Homo sapiens: one gene and its partner. The main gene of each other region encodes a partner of the protein of the gene in region 2 in a complex. Each region holds a gene or a part of one and is shown on either strand. Other genes may lie near its edges. The genes, in order: MAGOHB and UPF3B.

Region 1 (10,418 bases), on a different chromosome or scaffold from region 2:
TATCTGTAATGAATCTTCAAGTTAACAGACACTATTGAAGACAATCCTAGCTATTTATTTAATCAGAGGCCTAATTATGCAGTTTATGACACACACAGAATGGAGAATTAGCTAAGATGCTCTAACAGCCATAAAACCTTTGACTTGATACAAAAGGCAATTTCTGAAGCATGCCTACTCCTCCCCACTAACCAAAACCCATGAACACATCCTTAAGTGAATAGATAAAATACTAGGCTCTCCCTGAGTCTAAATGATATAAAAGGTTAGCTGCTGTGGTTTGCTTTTTAGTACATATGTGTATCTGCATAAAACAAACTGAGGCCTAAATTTACTTTTTAAAAGTGATACGATGCTTAAAATAAATACTGTTAACTATTACCTTTGCTTTTCTAAATAATGCTTCTTTAAGCAGAAGACTTAAGTTACTCCTACAGAGTGTCAGCATGTGTTAGATTTCTCCACATTTTCTTCTATTCAAAGAAGGTGATACAAAGTACAATCCTCAGGGATATACAAAAGTGAAATTAAATGTTTCTTCCTTCCAGGGGTTGTTGAAGGAATTTCTCCAAGAGTTGAAAAGACCCAATTCAGAAACCAAACTTTCTTTTTACAGAGTGAAATTAGGCCTTCAGAGTTCTTCAGAAGCCTGAGAAACATCATTTATTCTGAAGGAATATGAGAGGGAAATGCAATCATCAGTTTTAACAAAGAAACCACCAATCAAGTTTCTCTCTGGGGTATAGGGATGCAAGTAAGAATTTTAGAAGTTATGATTTGGCAAAAATAAATTTTACATAGTCATATTCTTAATAAAAGTGATTAACACACAACAGAAATTATTCATAACACTGCATTGTGAAAACATCCTAACGTTGGCTGGGGTGACTACAGAGAAAGATGTCTAAATTTAGAGCTATGCACTGACTCCTTCACTACTAGGAGGTAGCACAGAAAAACAGAACTAAGAGATAAAATTAAAGAGAATTTACCAGGTGCCTATTAAATAGAAAGCCAAAGAATCAACTTAGACTCATTCCAAATAAATAACGGGAAACAAAATAGTATTATCAATTTTTAATATTTATACACTTAAAGAATCACTAAATACAAACCTGTCGGCCAACCCTATCAGGGGGAGGCCACAAAGCATCATCTTCTTTTGTAATTTCACTGTCATCAATAATTCTCTTCAGTTCTTCCATTACACTCTTGTGCACATAAGCCTAAAAATTAATCATAATAAAATGAGATAATGCCCACCTATGTCACCCCTCAACTCAGAAAGAAATGAGTTACAAACCCTGAATATCCAAATAGAGGAATATAGAAAAATTTAATTGATTCCAAAAGTAGAGGAGACAGAATCACTTATCCTTGTTACACTGCTTTTCTTCATCTCTTGCCCTTTCCTTTCACATACATTTTTTCCCTCTTCTCATCATTACCTGTCTTTCAAACACTGTATTCTGCCTTTGCAACACTGAGATCCAAATACCCACAAGTGGTTAACTTGTGTCATCACAAGATCTATAAGGTGAACTGTAATAAATGCAAGTATACTGAGGCAGGAGAATCGCTTGAGCCTGGGAGGCAGAGGTTGCAGTGAGCTGAGATCAAGCCACTGCACTCCAGCTTGGGTAACAGAGCGAGACTCTGTCCCTAAATCAATAAATCAATAAATGCAAGTGTAGTTCACGTCAAGGTTAGTTCTCTGAACTTTCTCATTCCTATGGATGCAAACACTGTATCTAATTTAAATGGAAACTCTTTCAATCTATAAATTGCCTTCTTCTTTACAATATAGCCTTAGATGTACTTTTTTAAATTCAACACAGACTTGAAGAAAATGGGCTAAATGCAAAAAAAAAAAAAAAAAAAAAAAAGACATTCACATAGAACTTACCTCTTTTCTGATCATGACATCATTTTTGTAATTGCTGTTGTTGGCATATCTAAGCTTTCCTGTGGGAAGTGGAAAAAAATCAATTTATAATAGCAAAAACTGCTAAAAAAATTAACATCATATACAATTTTGAAGGTAAAGACCATTTTATACTACTATTTTTATTAATATTTCCTCCCTCCTTGTGTAAGATCATTGCTAGACATGTAGACAATAAATGTTTGCTGGTTAAGTTTGCTGAAGTTGAAGCTAGCCAAATATTTAAACAGCCCATGCCTACAATATATATTGGGTCATTTTTAAGGCCTATTTTCTTAAGCTACATCATGAACTAGAAAGAGAATCTGCAAAAGGCACTAAGATTCCTTTAAAGTTTGTTATATGTCTGTATCGGTGCTAAGTGCCTCACCCAGAGCATTTAATCTAATCTGTAAAACAATCCCAAAAATCGGGTTTTATTCTCTCACCTATTCATAGGAGAGAAAACAAAGTTAAGTAACTTAACCAGGGTCACACAAGATTCAGATCTAGATCTACTTTCTTTCAATACTCAGGCTTTCCCCACTACACCAAAATGTTCTCTTTTAAAAATTTTTTTCCTTCAAATGTATGCATGCAATTATAATGCAGACATTTTAGAATTATGACTAGGAAGCATACAAACGATGCTTCTGGATCAAAGTTGATGAGTTTGTTAGCTAGTTTATATTTAATTTTAATCCATCATGATTGCTGTATTATCTGATGTATGCTTCCCCTTATGGCTAGTCAGTTGCCCAGACACAGCTATAATGTGCAACAGGTACTCTAAAATGATAGAAATGACAGTCTTTGATGGCTTGGCACCAGGCACAGTGGCTCATGCCTGTAATCCCAGCAATTTGGGAGGCTGAGATGGGTGGATCACCTGAGGTCAGCAGTTAGAGACCAGCCTGGCCAACATGGAGAAACCCCGTCTCTACTAAAAATACGAAAAAATAGCCAGGCATGGTGGCCCATGCCTGCAATCCCAGCTACTCGGGAGGATGAGGCAGGAGAATCGCTTCAATCCACGAGGCGGAGGTTGCAGTGAGCCGAGATCGCACCACTGCACTGCAGCCTGGACGACAGAGCAAGACTCTGTCTCAAAAAAAAAAAAAAAAAAAAAAAAAAAAGAAAAGAAACGCGTCTTCGGGAGGCTCAATATCACCAATGGAAGTATGTGTAACAGTGTAGTGGCAGATACATTGATTAGAACCACTGTTCTAGCATAAAACTTCCCTGATAATATTCAGGTACTTAATTCATGTGACCTGCTAAAAGTGATAGGGACAAGCTTGATGGTGTTCGCAGGCAGAGGAACTGAAAATAATACTACATAAAGAATAGATGAATTCAGGTAAATTTAGCTGAATTTATGGGGACGGTAAGGTTAAATACAGTGATTAAGGTTTCTAAATAATTGCAGGGCTGGCCCGGTGGCTCATGCTTGTAATCCCAGGACTGTGGGTGGCTGACGCTGGTGGATCCCTTGACCTCAGGGGTTTGAAGCCAGCCTGGGCAACATGGGGAAACCCATCTCTACAAAAAATAACATAACATAACATAACATAACATAACATAACATAACATAACATAACATAACATAATTAGCTGGGTGAGGTGGCGTGGGCCTGTATTCCCAGCACCTCGGCAGGCTGAGGTGAGGGATCACTTGCACTAGGGAGGGGGAGGTTGCAGTGAGCTGAGATCGTGCCACTGCACTCAGATCTGGGTGACAGAGTGAGACCTTGTTTCAAAATAATAATAATAATAATAATTGCAGGACTGTAGTTAACGTGAGTTCTGCCTGAAATGCTTGATACTCTTCTCCTTTCCTAATATACGTTCCTTCTCTAATTTTTTATTCTTGCTCTCACAGAACATTGTCCAAAGCCTGCTTATAGGACTTAATATGCATACTGCTTTATAGTTAAATGTCTGTGCCTCCCACCAAGACAAATCTGCTTTAGTTAAATTTGTCTTACTCATTACTGTACCTTAAAATTTTGTATTTGCTTGTTGTCCAGCACAAAACGTGCATTCAAAAAAACCCAAAAAATATATATCCAAATGAACTTTCTTGTTGCAGGTAGGCAAGATCAATGTAACATTCTCTAAGGATAGCGCTGTCAGAAAACACACTGTTGCACACTACTTGGGTAGCAGTTTCACCTCATCCTCTGCTCATACTGCTCTGGAAGTCTGTTTTTTTCTCTCAAAGGCCAAGTCTCTCATTTCGAGACTCATCTCAAGAGTGCCGTCCTCTAAGAAGATCTTCCTGACTCCCTCCTGTGGAACTTTACCTCTCCCCTCTTGCTTGGTACTCTTCATGCGTCCTATGGTGAACAATTACACGTAAACACCTAAAACATATTATTATTCTCATTTGTTAACACGTTGGGCTCCTCCCCTTCAAAGAAAACACACAGCCTAAATGAAAAAAAGGTACTGGTCACCACAAGATTTTATTCATCCACTGGACCACCCGCTGGTGGGGGTGTTTTCAAAAAAGTGCTAGCATTTTCAATCAGGGCGACGATCTAGAGTCCCTTCTGGTGCACTGTTACAGAATTCTGATTACTGTAGGTTCAACTTTTCAGTTTGTGACAGGATTAGCTTTAATTTATTGCAATTAATTCTCTTTCATTTATAAAACCAACTTATGCCTCCTCTATTCTTAAGCTCCTATTTCCTTCGAGGGAAGCAGTGGCCTCCGCCGCCTGTACCCTCCACACCACCCGGCCTCTCGGTCTCGCTCCCCTTTCCCAGCACCGCGTGCCGTGGGCCTCTTCTCACCGTCCGGCCGAAATTCGAACTCCAGAAACTCGTGCCCAAACTTGCCCTTGTGCCCTACGTAGTAGCGCAGGTAGAAATCGCTAGCCACAGCCATTTTTGTACCCGGGAAGCCCGCCGAAAACGCAGCCAACGTGTCCCCCGGCGCCTTGCAGTGACGTCATCGCGCGGAATAAGTGCGTCACCACAGGCGCTTCTCTTCCTCCTGCAGTGCAGCCCTAGACTAAAGCGTGAAAGCCGAGTATCGCGTGAGAGTCCGGAGGCGCTGAAGGGAGGGTCGCAGCGCCGTGACTTTCGCTTTACTAGGAATGGAGGCACATTGTTTTCAAAATAAAGATTACATTATACTAGCAAAGATTAGAAATGTGAGCATATGATAGTCTTTTTTATGGACTTAGAGCTAAAGGTTTGCAAGTCACTTTTACTTTTCTGGTCTCCCAATCCTTGCGGCGTTTGTGAGGTGGGTGTGGCTCTATGCCCCCTTTAACTGTGAGCTAAATAAAGATAAAGCTTAGAATCGAAATGGCAGACCGGGAATATAAACTATTTTTCTTACTTAATTTCTAACAGGGTGCTTTCCCTTTGGATAGCGATTGGTAGTTACCCGGGACCTCTAAGCCTATAATAATAGAGACAAAGTCAAAGGAATCCAACTCTTAAAACCCTCACACCCCCCACACCTGAAAAACCCTGACAGTCACCGTGCTTTTTTTAACAGCAGAACTTCTAAGGTTCTTAATTCATTCAATAAGGGTTAACTTTTAGTAGCCTGTGAAGTTTTGGCAATTTGACTTACGATACAATAATGGTTTAGCCCATTATTGTTTCTCGCCAGATAGAATTAAATTGGGGGAATGAAAGAATGCTCCAGTGTGGCGTAGTTTTTAAGGTAAGGGAAAGACTTTTACACAAAGTTTCCTTTTCAGATATTATTGATCACCCTTTTGTTATCAACACACAGAGTAATCCTATCTGTCGGTTGACAACCTTCAGTGATTTTTAGTAGAAAGTGGTGGAGAGAAGACCTGGGATTCAATCCCAACACTTAACAGCTAACTAACCTCGGGCAAGTGACTATCTCTAAGCCTGTTTGTTCATCAGCCTAATGCATATACAGCAATCTACATTGCCAAGCTCACAGAATTCTTGAGAGATCTAATGAGATAATATGTAAAATAAGCTTTAAATTTTATAAAACATTAGTTTTAACAAACATTTCCTATGTGACAGTTTGAAACTAGAAATAAGCCATTTGATCTGGTAGTCTAGAAAAGAAAGCAAACACGTAAGGCGAATACCAGCACAAGGGAGCAATTGCTATAATTAAGAATATATGTGCCATCCTGGCCAGCATGGTGAAACCCCGTCTCTATTAAAAATACAAAAAAATTAGCTGGGCGTGGTGGCGCGTGCCTGTAATACCAGATACGCGGGAGGCTGAGGCAGGAGAATTGCTTGAACCCTGGAGGCAGAGGTTTCAGTGAGCTGAGATCGTGCCACTGCATTCCAGCCTGGGCAACAAGAGCGAAACTCTGTCTCAAAAAAAAAAAAAAAAAAAAAAGAAAAAGAAAAGAAAGCCTATATGTGGCCGGGCGCAGTGGCTCATGCCTGTAATCCCAGCACTTTGGGAGGCCAAAGGGGGCAAATCACCCGAGGTCAGGAGTTCAAGACCAGCCTGGCCAACATGGCAAAACCTTGTCTTTACTAAAAATACAAAAATTAGCCAGGTTTGGTGGCACGTGCCTGTAATCCTAGCTACTCAGGAGGCTGAGGCAGGAGAATCGCTTGAACCCGAGAGGCGGAGATCGCGCAGTTGCACTCCAGCCTGGGTGACAAGAGCGAAACTTCGTCTAAAAAAAAAAAAGTGTGTAAAACATGCCGGTAGTACAGCAGAGGAAGCAAGAGCATTCTATTGCAGAGTAGGGAAATTTGAAAAAAGAGTATTGGAAAAGGCTTGTCAACGGAAGTGTTTGAATTGGACCTTGAGAAGTAAGTTCTGTGTATGTTCAGTGGGATGAAAAAGCATTCCAGGCAGAAAATGACCCGAGCAAAGACAGTGGTGTGAAAATTCATGTTTGGGGAACACTAAGAAATTCGGTATAGCTAGAGCATAAGGTTCAAGTAGAATGACTAAAAAGGCAAATTGGGCCACGTTTCCTTGAGTCCATATTAGTAGTTATATAACTATTAATATAGAAAAATGAATCAGTCCCTACAATGGGCCACCATTTTGGAAAGTACGTAAGAAACAGGAAGCACCATGTTTTACCACTAGGGTGACTAGCCGTTCCAGTTTGACCAGGACTGTGGAGTTTCCTGGGAAATGGGACTTTCCATACCTGGAAACACCCAGGCAAACTGAGATGGGTTGGTCACCACACTTACCACAAGAATAATTCACAGAAATTTGAACACTCTATTCCGTAGTATCTCTGGAAATATCAGCTGTAATCCATTTTGTTGAATTATATGGAAAGCCTCATTCAATATCTTAGATTCCCTAATGTCTCTCCTTCAGGTTTTTGGCACATGTGCCAATGTTCATCTTCATGTTTACCTAAATAGAACTATGGATACCAGAATGTGTAACTATATAAATAGAGGTTACAGAATGCACAAAGTATTAACATCTTTGTTAAGTGGGCCAGTTACTGTCTTGATCTCCAAAAATGACATAGGGGTTCAAGACTATAATCCTACCTGTTTGTAAGATAAAATATGAAACTATATTTACTTAACTCTCTATATTTTAAGCCAAAATTTGAACCTTTTGTATTGAAGCAAGAATTACAAAGTGATAAAGCATTTGCGTTGTGTTGTATTCTTGGATGGTACACAACAGTGATGTGGAAATGTTCTTCTGTATGGCTGCTGAGCCCTTGAAATGTGACTACTGTGACTTCGAACTGAATTCTTAATTGTGATTAATTTAGATTAACATTTAAATAAACACATGTGGCTAGAAGCTACTGTGTTGGTCAGCACAGTTAGAATCTTTTCATACACTTTTAGTTGGGCTAGAAATAGCAAAAAAAAAATTGTGAACATTTTCAAATTGCTTGTTGTAGGCTCCAAATTAGGACGTACTTACTGATATCAACACAGTTTACTTATGAAAATAAATATTTGAGCTGCTTAAGTGAAGCCAAAATACTGTTTCCACCTTTGCTAACACAGCGGTAAATTTCAAAGCACAAAGTGAAGTAGGTAAGAAATAAACGTTTTATTTCCATCTGAAATTAGGGCTTAATGATCAAATCATTCTGACTTCCAATTTTCAGAAACATGTTCCATGTTTATTGTGATAAGCACTAGGTATTATAGTCTCATGTTTTTAATTTATGAATAACGTCTGATTCATTTGATTTTGTATTTACAGAAGAAAAGATGTCAGGGCTATCTCATTCAGTTATTAATAAATGGATCAGAGTAGTAAGTCAAGAATAAGTGCATAATGTGGTTTAAATTTTAAAAAATACTCAGAATGAGGTAGTATTTTAATTTTTAATTCATCCACCCACCTTGCTCTTCTCTTTTCCATAATAGACTTCCCTGTGGACGTTAGCCTTATCTGTCTTTTTACCACTTAGTGGTATTAACTTTTTAAGTAAGAGAATCATGATCATGCAGAAACACCAAACTTTCCACACCATTCGTTATCACATATGTTCATATATGGCGAGAACTTGGAGCTACTTCTAGATTACCATGACATGATATATTTAATTCGATTGTTCAATCTAAAATTTTTTTCCAGCAAATGACAATATTATATGCTTCAAACACATAGCATAATCTCTAACTCTTTTCCCCAAAACGGGTAAACACAGTATGCTAAATTAAGGGTAATAGGATATCTTCCAGTCTTCCACTGTATTTGCTACTTATTTATTTCAGTAAGAGTGTTAAAGCAAAATTTAAAAAAATTATTGCAACAGAGTTAAGATTAAGAAATCTTAATTAACTGACTTTTTTTGTTTTAAAATGCTAAAAAAAAACCCACTACTATTATTTGATTTTAATAACAGAATACCTAAATCTGGCATAAAAAAACATAGTGTGCTCCATAAGCATAATTTAAGAACTACTGGTTCAGACTATTCTATTTTAAACGACGTTACCAAGTTTCCCTTAGACACTGTATCTAGGTGGGTGTTTGCGTTGTTCCTAAGTGTTGGAATTTTTTTTTAACAATAAAGCATAGATTGGAAAAACAAGACTGGAAGAGAAGGCAATCAAAACAATACAACAAAATCTATCTAGAGTCAACCCGATTAAATGATAAATATTTTGATTCTTTTTTTCATTCATTAGCTTGGAAACACCTAGTTTGGCTGAAAGGTCAATGATGCCAGAAATATCATCCTCCTTCTGGAAGAAGCCTGGCCAAGTGAGAGAAAGACCCAGTTTTCTTAGAGTAAAAATTACTGTATCCAGTTTTCCGGGCCGGAAAAACAAATAAAATTGGGGGTAAAAAACTTAAATATCAATTGTCTGCTTCTTTCCCTCCTACTAAAAGAAATATGACAGTACAACAAAGCAACCTTCCATTTCACTGTGTTCCACTTTCCCTTAGCTCACCGTGCTGCAACCCATATGCTTTCTTGCAGTTCCTTGCCTCAGAATTTTCACGCACACATGTCCTCCTCCTGGGAGACTCTTCTTATTCGGCCTGGGTTACTTACCCATCCCTAAGGTCTCAGTTTATAGCCCATTTCTGTTCAGGGAAGTGTTCCTTTTAAACTCCCTTCTACTACCCTATGCTTTTTCTTTATAGCACTTAACACTTCGCACTTAACAGATACCCACACAAATAAATGTATAATGTGTCTCACCTTCTAGACTGTAATCAAAAGCTCCCTATTTCTTTTATCCTACACCTAGCCAAGTGTCTGGCACAGCAAGCCTTAACACTCAATATTTTTCAGTGATCAGATAAATAAGTAAATATTTGTAATTTTGACTTAACTGAACAGCTGAGAGGCAACAATGGGATTCCATAGGACTTTGTAATTTTGTGTGAAGCCACTCTTCTGCCCTTCTCCCTACTGCAACTTGCTACCCATTTAAATCCTGACTAGTCATTGTGGTATTCTTACAGCGGCAAGAATCATTATTCCTTTAGCTGACTCATTATGATTCCATCAGGATTCCAACTTCTACAACATTTTTAGCTGCCAGTCATTTTTCTTATGGCAGCCTTAGATGTCCCTTCCAGGGTACCCAAAGTGTTTTTTAAAATTGCAGACTACCATGTTCAACAGAATTGCCCTCATGATGATGTTTTCAATATTTTGTAATAGTAGGAGTCCACTATCATCATCCAAAAGCGTACAAAAATGATGACTTCATCATTGCACATGTATAATATCACTACTTGTGCCATATCATCATCTTTAGGCATGTCCTGCCTTGCAGTGTTAGCGACTGAGTTTCTCTTCTTGGTCACAGTAGATTTTAAATGAAAAATATATGAAAGGTCCTGGGTTAGGAAGGGCAAAAGAAAAGGAGAAACACGTTTATTGAGCGCATATGTGCCAGATAGTGTACAAATACATACTCAAAACGTATCAATCCTCAGAACAACCTTGTGAAATAGGTATTATCCCCATTTACACATAAAGAATCCCTTTTCTGACATTGTACATTATCTCTTGAATTTTTCTATTGGCATTAACTTTCACTTATTTACTTTTAT
Region 2 (9,954 bases):
TAACACTACCACCACCACCACCAAAAGGACTTATTAGCTAAGACCTGTGTGTGTGACATGATACTAGATGCTCTGTATCATGTACTTGGTCCTTACATTTTTCTGATTCACAGCTTGTAACAGAAACCTGTGTACCTGAAGACAGTGGAAAACAAACAGATGAGGTAACTTCATGTATCAATTATGAAGAAAAAGCTGAAAAAAAACCATAAATCATGCCAGCCAGCCCTAAGCCCTCATTTACTATGAATTTAGAGGACAATAGTCTAAAAATCCAACATTTTCAATGACAAAAACAGCACAGATCTGCACTGAAGAAATAACATACTACTTTATCCTTTTAAATGATCTTAAATTTAAAAACTAATACTATTACAGGAAAGATTTTTATTGGATCACTTCCCCCCAAAAGAGAACAAAAACAAAACAAAAAATTCATTTACACCAACACAAGACGCATGCATATTTAAAGAAGTAGATACGTGCAATTTTTAGCAACATGCAGTCAGTTTCAACATTCTTATACCTTAATCTTTGGTTCATCCTTTAATTTGTCCCTTTCTGGAATTCTGTCTATCTTCTTTAGCTTTTCTATATCTTTCCTTTTTCGTTTCTCTTCTTCTTTCCATTTCCTCCTCTCTTCTTCTCTTTGTCTTTTTCTTTCTATTTCTCTCCTCCTCCTTTCTTCTCTCTTTTCTTCTCTCATTCTCTAGAAAGAAACATCAACACAAGCCTTCAAATAAAATAATCATCACCAAAACCCTAATAAATCCTGAAGTCATGGTAGGCCCCAACTGAATAATCTTTCCTTCCTACTTTCTACAAAGTGGCATTCTACCACCGTTATCCCCACTCCACCCAGAAAACGAAAGACAATGAAGACCAGAACCTGCTAATATTATTCTTCCACTGCTGCCTTACTATCTCTCCAGAGGCTTTCAGAATATCAAATGAGTGTCTCTGGGACAACCTAAGAACATTCCACGTTTGTAGAGTGAACTCCTGGTCCAACAACCAGAGTGAAGGAGCAGGCTAGAGAGTGAGACCAAGAAGGCAAATCCTTAAAGAGTAATGGTGGAAAAAGCAGCTATTTCTCCTCTAGAAACCCAATGCTCTTAAAATGTTTATAGAATGCAAAGCAAAGAAATTAAAGTATTGAGAGAACTATAAAGACAAAAGATTTACCTGCTTGTTTTTCAGGAAGCTCAAAAGTGGGGTTGTCTTTTTAGCTACATAAATGTAAACAGATTATTAATCATACTTATCAACCCCTAGAAACGATTCCATTTTCTGACATTCCCTGCCAACCACCCAAGGTGGGAAAACATGTACACCCCTTATGCAGAAAGATCACAATTGTAATATCAGAAAGAAGTTTTACAGCATTCGATTTCAACAATACGGGATTAAAATACCTTTTAAAAAGTAAAGAAATTCAAATTAAAACAACAAAATAATTTATTAAAAGAGTCATTCCCAACTGATGAGAATTAAGTACTTAGGACATTCTCTTGTTTTACTGATAGGAGTGTAAACTTGTTCAACTGGAAGAAGTTGGGGGGAAGGGGCTAAAAATATCTAATCCTTTTGACCCCATAATTCCACTTCTGGGAATTTATTCTAAGAAAGTTACCAGAAATAGGCTTGTACTATCCATCTATTAATAAAAGTCAAGTTTTGGAAGAATATTTTTCATTTTCAACATTCTGAATAAGCTATTGGCCTTACAGCCATCTTAAAACACATATTCCTGGCCGGGCACAGTGGCTCATGCCTGTAATCCCAGCACTTTCAGAGGCCAAGGCAGGCGGATCACTTGAGGTCAGGAGTTCGAGATCAGCCTGGCCAACATGGTGAAACCCCGGCTCTACTAAAAATACAAAATTGGCCGGGCGTGGTGGCGGACACCTGTACTTCCAGCTACTCGGGAGACTGCGGCAGAATCGCCTGAACCCAGGAGGCGGAAGTTGCAGTGAGCCGAGATTGCGACACTGCACTCCAGCCTGGGCGACAGAGCAAGACTCCATCTCTCACACACACACACACACACACACATACACACACACACACACACACACACAGAGAGAGAGCGAGCGAGCAAGCAAGCAAAAAAAACAAACAAACAAACAAAAAAACCCCACATATTCCTTAGGATAAATTCCTGAGTAGAAATCCTGGGTCAAAGATTATGCTCATGTTTAGAGCTACTGATACAGTAGTGACAGCCTATTACTGAGAACCAAGATCCAAGCTAGAATTCCTCAAGTAGTTTTCAATTTTGCAGTAACTAATTTCATTTTTTCGTATTTTCAAGTCAAAATTTTTTTAGGAATATGAACTTATTACTAGAAAATACCAATTGACCTTCAAAGGCTTACCACTGTCTAAACATTCCTTATCAGTCATCGAACTTTTTGTATTTATATTACATTTGTGTGAAACTAAATAGGTCAAAGAATTTTTCCCACTTTAATGGATTCTCATAATGCTGTGAGGCAGGTATTACCATCTGCAATTTACAGTAACAGTCTCAGAGAAACTAGTAACTTCCCTGAAGTCACACAGCTAGCAACTGATGGAGGTAGGAGACTTAGGTACTGTGATGAAAAGACTGTTGCCCTGATTCTTTTTGCCCACTTACCTATTAATTCTCTATTTTTTGCTTCTATTTCCTCTAGCAGTGTCTCTGGAGTAGATGTCATTTTCTCATTATCTGTGGCATAACTTTCCAAAAACTTTCTATATTCTGGATCTAAATAATCATTTGAGGAAACAGAAAATATAATAGACTTTAAACAAAAAAAGAAGACATTATCTACAATACTGATTTATCAAAGAAGATAATTTTTTACTTCGTGGAAGATTAAAAAAAACCAAACCATACCCACAAGGTAGACTATTTAGAGCTTAATTGGTCACTTGCTCTCAGGACTCCTATCACTGATACTCACTATAGGAATCTGGTATAACATGGGGTCAGGAAAAATGAGACGCCATGCATTATAACAGAACCACTAGGGGTATTACATAGTTTGCTTTTAAAAGTCACTGTCCTACTAAACTAAGTTAGGTGTTCCAAAAAGATAAATTAGAGAGAAGTCCTAGATGTGGCACTTGAGGTGATGGGAATTCCTGGAGTTCTCTCCTAGACCTCTAACATCAGAAAGGGTGACACATCTAAGCCATTATATTGCTTGTTTCTATGTGTCACTTGATCAAGTCTTCCAGATCTAAATCTGTAATAAAACCAGTATCACAGCTATGTGTTATTGAGTCCTTACCGTGTTTTCTTTATAAAATACCTGTAATAGTAACAAATGATGGAAATTAAACTAGATGATTCTAAAGTAACAATCTGATATAAAATATGGTCCTAGTCCTTATCCAACATAAAGAGTTGTGTAACAGCTATCTAACATAACATTACAGAGGTCTCAAAATCTGGAGCCAGTGTACCTTAAATGGCAATTATTTTGGTTTTTCAGTTCTTGTATTTCTTTCTTTCTTTCTTTTTTTTTGAGACGGAGTTTTGCTTTTGTTGTCCAGGCTGGAGTGCAATGGTGCGGTCTCAGCTCACTGCAACCTCCGCCTCCCGGGTTCAAGTGATTCTTCTGCCTCAGCTTCCCAAGCAGCTGGGATTACAGGTGCCCGCCACCATGCCTAGCTAATTTTTGTGTTTTTAGTAGAGATGGGGTGTCACCATGTTGGCCAGGCTGGTCTCGAACTCCTGACCTCAGCAACTCTGCCCGCCTTGGCCTCCCAAAGTGCTGGGATTATAGGAGTGAGCCACCGCGCCTGGCCTCAGTTCTTCTATTCCTGTTCAACCTAATACTATGTGTGTAGCTAATTGTATATCCAAAGACCAGAAAATAGGAGTGACAACTTCAGCTACTTTATACAAAGTTACCTGGGTATGGAAATTTTCCCATGACAGTTCAAACCTTCTTCTTTATAAATATAATGGAAACCAAAAGTCAAATAAATAATCATAAAAATGGTGAGGCCTCAAGAAGCACCTGTTAAACTTTGAAACCTGATTTTTTTCCACTATTTTCTTTTTCTTTTTTTTTTGAGATGGAGTTTCGCTCTTGTTGCCCAGGCTGGAGTGCAATGGTGTGATCTCAGCTCACTGCAACCTCCGCCTCCTGGGTTCAAGAGATTCTCCTGCCTCAGCCTCCCGAATAGCTGGGATTACAGGCATGCACCACCATACCCGGCTAATTTTATATTTTTAGTAGAGACAGGGTTTCTCCATGTTGGTCAGGCTGGTATCAAACTCCTGACCTCAGATGATCCGCCCGCCTTGGCCTCCCAAAGTACTGGGATTATAGGCGTGAGCCACCACGCCTGGCCTTTCCACTATCTTCTAATCAATAAACCTATGGTGATTTGTTACTCAATAGTCAACATTATATTGTTCAATGGTTGAAGAATGAAATGCCCTAGCCAAAGAGAGCAGAGATTCTGTGCAAGAAACTCTCTCTAGTCTAACAATTAAGCAAAGCTTCCATCGGCAAATAACATTTCTCACTTACTTTATTTTGTATATTTTCTAATTTAAAATTTTGGGGTCGAATTAACTCTCACAAAGATATTATTTTTAAAAACCCCACAGCAATAGCATTATATAATTAGAGCTATACTGTACCATCATCGATAGTCCCGACTTTGGTATCTCTTTTCTTAGTCTTCTTTTTTGCAGCTTTTTGAAAAGGTGCAAATTCTACTATAGCGGGATATTCCTGACCTGTTTAGAAAAAAAATACCACACTTGCTATAACAAAGAAAATGTCAAAAGTGGATATAAGGGAATCAACCCATTGCTTTCTATGACTCTTTTGATGGCAGTCATCTGAAGAGGGTCTCCCAAAGGCATAAAGCACACTGGCACAACCATAATCAACATACTACAAAAGGAGCCACAAATTCACACTGATAACATAGTGAAACAACACGGCATGAAAGTAAAATATTCATATAAATTCAACTTATAAAATGTGATATTTTAATGTGAAAAAGACCCTACAAACTATTTTTCATTTTAAAATGTTAGAAATCTCCAAAATAGGCAAATCTATAGAGACAGAACGTAGAGTAGTAGCTGCCTGGAGTTTGGGGTAGAAGTGGTGAGAAGAATGAGGAGTGACAACTAATGGGTGGGGTTTCTCTTAGGGGTGATGAACATGTTCTAAATTTAGATTGTGGTGATAGGCTCATAAGCCTATGAATATACTAAAATTCACTGAACTGTATACTTTAAAAGGGTGACTATTTCAGGCATGTGAATTATATCTCAATAAAGCTGTTATTTTTTAAAAGTGTAACTATTTGAGGTGATGTGTTATGTGAGGTGATGAATGTGTTAACTTGATTGTATATATTTCATAATGTATATATGTATACATTATGTATACATTTCATAATGTATATATGTATACAATATGTATACATTTCATAATGTATACATTTCATAATGTATACATATATAAAATTATCACGTTGGGCTGGGCACCGTGGCTTATGCCTATAATCCCAGCATTTTGGGAGGCCGAGATGAGAGGATCACCTGAGGTCAGAAGTTTGAGACCTGCCTGGCCAACATGGTGAAACACTGTCTCTACTAAAAATACAAAAATTAGCTGGGCGTGGTGGCACGTGCCTGCAATCCCAGCTACTCTGGAGGCTGAGGCATGAGAATCACTTGAACCCAGGAGGCAGAGATTGCAGTGAGCCGAGATCATGCCACTGCACTCCAGCCTGGGCGACAGAGTAAGACTCCGTCTCAAAAAAATAAATACATAAAAATAAAAATAAATAAAAATACAAAAATTAGCCAGGCGTGATAGTGCACGCCTGTAATCCCAGCTACTTGGGAGACTGAGGCAGGAGAATCACTTGAACCTGGGAGGCGGAGGTTGCAGTAAGCTGAGATTGTGCCACTGCACTCGAGCCTGGTAAAAAAAAAAAAAAAAAAAGAAAAAGAAAAAAGAAAAAACAATTATTACATAGTAAAATTTAAATATATATTATTTTATTTGTCAATTATAGCTCAATAAAGCTGGGGAAAAATCTGTTAACACTTAAAAAAAAATACACCAGGACACCAAAAGCACAGGCAACAAAAGTAAAAATACAGAGGGTAGATCTCATGTTAAGTGTTCTTACCACAATAAAACAAAAATATAAAGTATATCTCTTATTTAAAAAAAGTAAAAAATAGATAAATTGGACTACGTCAAAATTAGAAACTTCTATGCATCAAAAGACACAATCAACAGAGTGAAAAGGCAACCCATGGAATGGGAGAAATATTTGCAAATTATATTATCTGATAAGGGGTAATATCGAGAATATATAAAGAACTCCTATAACTCAACAACAAAAAACCAAATAACCCAATTTAAAAAATGGTCAAAAGACTTGAATAGACATTTCTTCAAAGATAATATACAAATGGCTAACAAGCATATGGAAATATGTTCCACATTACTAGTCATTAGGGAAATGCAAATCAAAACCACAATGAGGTATCATCTCACGCCTATTAGGAGGACTACTATCAAAAAGCAGAAAATAACAAGTGTTGGCAAAGATGTGGAGAAACTGGAACACTCATGTATTGGTGGGAATGTAAAATGATGCAGCTGCATGGAAAACAGTATGGCAGTTCCATAAAACATTAAAAATAGAATTATTGGGCCAGCCTGACTAACATGGTAAAACCCCATCTCTACTAAAAATACAAAAATTAGCTGGGTGTGGTGGTGGGCACCTGTAATCCCAGCTACTCAGGAGGCTGAGGCAGGAGAATTGCTTGAACCCAGGAGGTGGAGGTTGCAATGAGGGAAGATCGCGCCATTGTACTTACTCCAGCCTGGGCAATGAGGGCGAAATTCCATCTCAAAAAAACAAAACAAAACAAAAAAGAACTACCGGCGGGGCACAGTGGCTCACACCTGTAACCTCAGCACTTTGAGAGGCCGAGGTGGGCGCATCACTTGAGGTCAGGAGTTTGAGACCAGCCTGGCCAACATGGTGAAACTCCGTCTCTACCACAAACATAAAAAATTAGCAGGGTGTGGTGGCAGGTGTCTGTAATCCCAGATACTTGGGAGGCTGAGGCAGGAGAATTGCTTGCACCTGGGAGGTGGAGGTTGCAGTGAGCCAAGATCATGCCACTGCACTCCAGCCTGTGTGACAGAGACTCTGTCTCAAAATAAATAAATAATAAAATAAAAATAGAATTACCAAATGACTCCAGAAATTCCATTTCTCGGTATATATCCAAAAGCAGTGAGAACAAGGACTCGAATATGTGCACATCTGTGTTCATAACAATATTGTTCACAATAGCCAAGAGTGGAAGCAACTCGAATACCCCTTGACAGATGAATGGATACACAAAATGTGGTATATACATATACTGGAATATTAGTCTTAAAAATGAGGCTGGGGGCAGTGGCTCATGCCTGTAATTCCTAGCATTTTGGGAGGCTGAGGCAGGCATGTCACTTCAGGTCAGGAGTTTGAAACTAGCCTGGCCAACACAGTGAAACCCCATCTTTACCAAAAGTACAAAAAAATTAGCCAGCTGTGGTGGTGGGTACCTGTAATCCCAGCTACTTGGGAGGCTGAGGCTGGAGAATTGCTTGAACCCAGGAAGCGGAGGTTGCAGTGAGCTGAGATCGCGCCACTGCATTCCAGCCTGGGCAACAAAGTGAGACTCCATCTCAAAAAAAAAAAAAAAAAAAAAAAAGATGAAAATTCTGACACATGCTACGACATGGATACACCTTGAAGATATTATGCTAAATGAAATAAGCCAGACAGACACTGTATGTTTCCACCTATATGTGGTACCTACAGTAGTGAAACTCATACAGACACAAGGTATAATGGTGGTTGCCAGGGGCTGGAGGAAGGGAAATAAGGAGTTGTTTAATGGGTAAAGAGTTTCAGTTTTTCAAGATGAAAAAGTTCCCAAGATTGTTGCACAACAGTGTGAATATACCTTAATGCTACTGAACTGTACACTTAAAATGGTTAAGATGGTAAATTTTATGTTACGTGTATTTTTACAATTTTTAAAAATGCAAAAGGAATGAGGTAATGATATATGTTATATGTTACAACATGGATGGACCTTGAAAACATTGTGCTAGGTAAAAGAAGCCAGTCAGAAAAGACCACATATTGTATGATTACATTTATATGAAATGGAGGGAAATCATAGATACATAAAGTAGATTAGTGGTTGCCAGGGGCTGGAGGGAGAGAATGGGAGGTAACTACTAATAGATATGGGTTTCTTTTTGGAGGGATGAAAACATTCTGGAATTAGTACTGATGGTTGTACTACCTTGTGAATATACCAGAAACCACTGAATTGTACGCTTTAAGAGGATGAATTTTATTATAGGTGAGTTATATTTCAATACAAAAACCCCAAGTGACTAATGGGAAAAAAATTCACAAGCACCCTGTCACAGAATGTCAAAAACAAGGTATCCTATCCTTAAATCATTGGCATGTAGACATAAGCAGAAAAATAAAAATAAACAGAATTGACCAGAAGGCACTGCAAAGCAGTCATGGAGGAAAAATTATGTTGGGAATCCCAGTGAGTAGAGAATCAGATTAGCTTCAAAACTGTGATATATTAGGCCAGGCATGGTGGCTCACGCCTGTAATCCCAGCACTTTGGGAGGCTGAGGCGGGTGGATTGCTTGAGGCCAGGAGTTTGAGACCAGCCTGGCCAACATGGTGAAACCCCATCTCCTAAAATTACAAAAATTAGCTGGGCGTGGCGGCACACACCTGTAATCCCAGCTAAGTCGGCAGGCTGAGGAACGAGAATTGCTTGAACCCAGGAGGCGGAGGTTGTAATGAGCCAAGATTGTGCCACTGTACTCCAGCCTGGGCGACAGAGTTAAGACTCTGTCTCAAAAAAAAAAAGAGAGAGAGAGAGAAGAAAAAGAAAAAAAACAAAAATAAAAACCAAAAAACAAAACTGTGATATATTTGAGAAGGAATAGATAAACCAGACTGAAACAGAGGGAAATTGTGGAAGACAGGCTGAAGAAACAGAAGTGAGGCCAGAATATGGAGGACCCTGACTACCAGGCTAAGGAGTTTGGACTTTTTCCCCCAACTGTTAATTTAAATCATTATTTTCAAAAAGATTAATTTCATGGCAATATAATAGACTGAATTATACAAGAATGAAAAAAATGGAAAATCCTGTAAGTTTAGAGACAGTGGTTGTCTAGGCATTAAGTGATGAGGACATAAAGTGTGACTGTTTAAGGCTAGGTGAACAAGATATTAAAAAAAAACAATAAAATCCAGCCTGGGCAACATAAGCAGACCTTGTCTCTAAGATTTAAAAACAAAACAAAACAAACAAACAAACAAAAAACACAATGAGGAAAGGATAGTCTCTTTAATAAGTGGTGTTGAGCTGGGTATGGTGGCTCGCACCTGTAATCCCAGCACTTTGGGAGGCTGAGGTGGGGGGGGGGAAATCACTTGAGCCCAGGAGTTCAAGACCAGCCTGGGCAACGTAGTGAGACCCCATCTCTATAAAAAATTTAAAGAAAATTAGCCAGGCATGGTGACATACATCTGTAGTCCCAGCTACTCAGGAGGCTGAGGTGGGAGGATTGCTTGAGTCCAGGAATTCCAGGCTGCAGTGAGCTCTGATTGCGCCACAGCACTCCAGCCTGGGTGGAGACCCTATCTCAAAAGATAAACAATAAATTGACAAGATTCATAACTTACATGTAAGAGATTTTTAAAAAAGGAAAAAATTAAACACAACTCAGATTTCCAGGCTAAGTAACTAGAATCTAGTTAAATATCTACTGGAATAAAATAGTTGGAGTGGAAAAATAGCTGGCTTGGGGAGATTAATAAAAGTTGGACAAACAGTGGCAATCCTTCAATTTTTACTGG

What was found.
Region 1: UPF3B (region 2) and MAGOHB share a complex: the UniProt entries of both Homo sapiens proteins name them as parts of the mRNA splicing-dependent exon junction complex.

The regions. Positions count from the first base shown.
Region 1 is NC_000012.12:10,608,716-10,619,133, forward strand, and holds the start of MAGOHB (protein mago nashi homolog 2), read right to left. Parts: upstream 4,895-10,418; 5' UTR 4,818-4,894; coding exon 4,724-4,817; intron 4,264-4,723; exon of another isoform or gene 3,925-4,263; intron 1,966-3,924; coding exon 1,907-1,965; intron 1,227-1,906; coding exon 1,116-1,226; intron 669-1,115; exon of another isoform or gene 383-668; intron 1-382. UniProt on the Homo sapiens protein: Required for pre-mRNA splicing as component of the spliceosome. Plays a redundant role with MAGOH in the exon junction complex and in the nonsense-mediated decay (NMD) pathway.
Region 2 is NC_000023.11:119,840,550-119,850,503, forward strand, and holds part of UPF3B (regulator of nonsense transcripts 3B), read right to left. Parts: intron 4,748-9,954; coding exon 4,649-4,747; intron 2,753-4,648; coding exon 2,642-2,752; intron 1,230-2,641; coding exon 1,186-1,229; intron 710-1,185; coding exon 527-709; intron 136-526; coding exon 97-135; intron 1-96. UniProt on the Homo sapiens protein: Involved in nonsense-mediated decay (NMD) of mRNAs containing premature stop codons by associating with the nuclear exon junction complex (EJC) and serving as link between the EJC core and NMD machinery.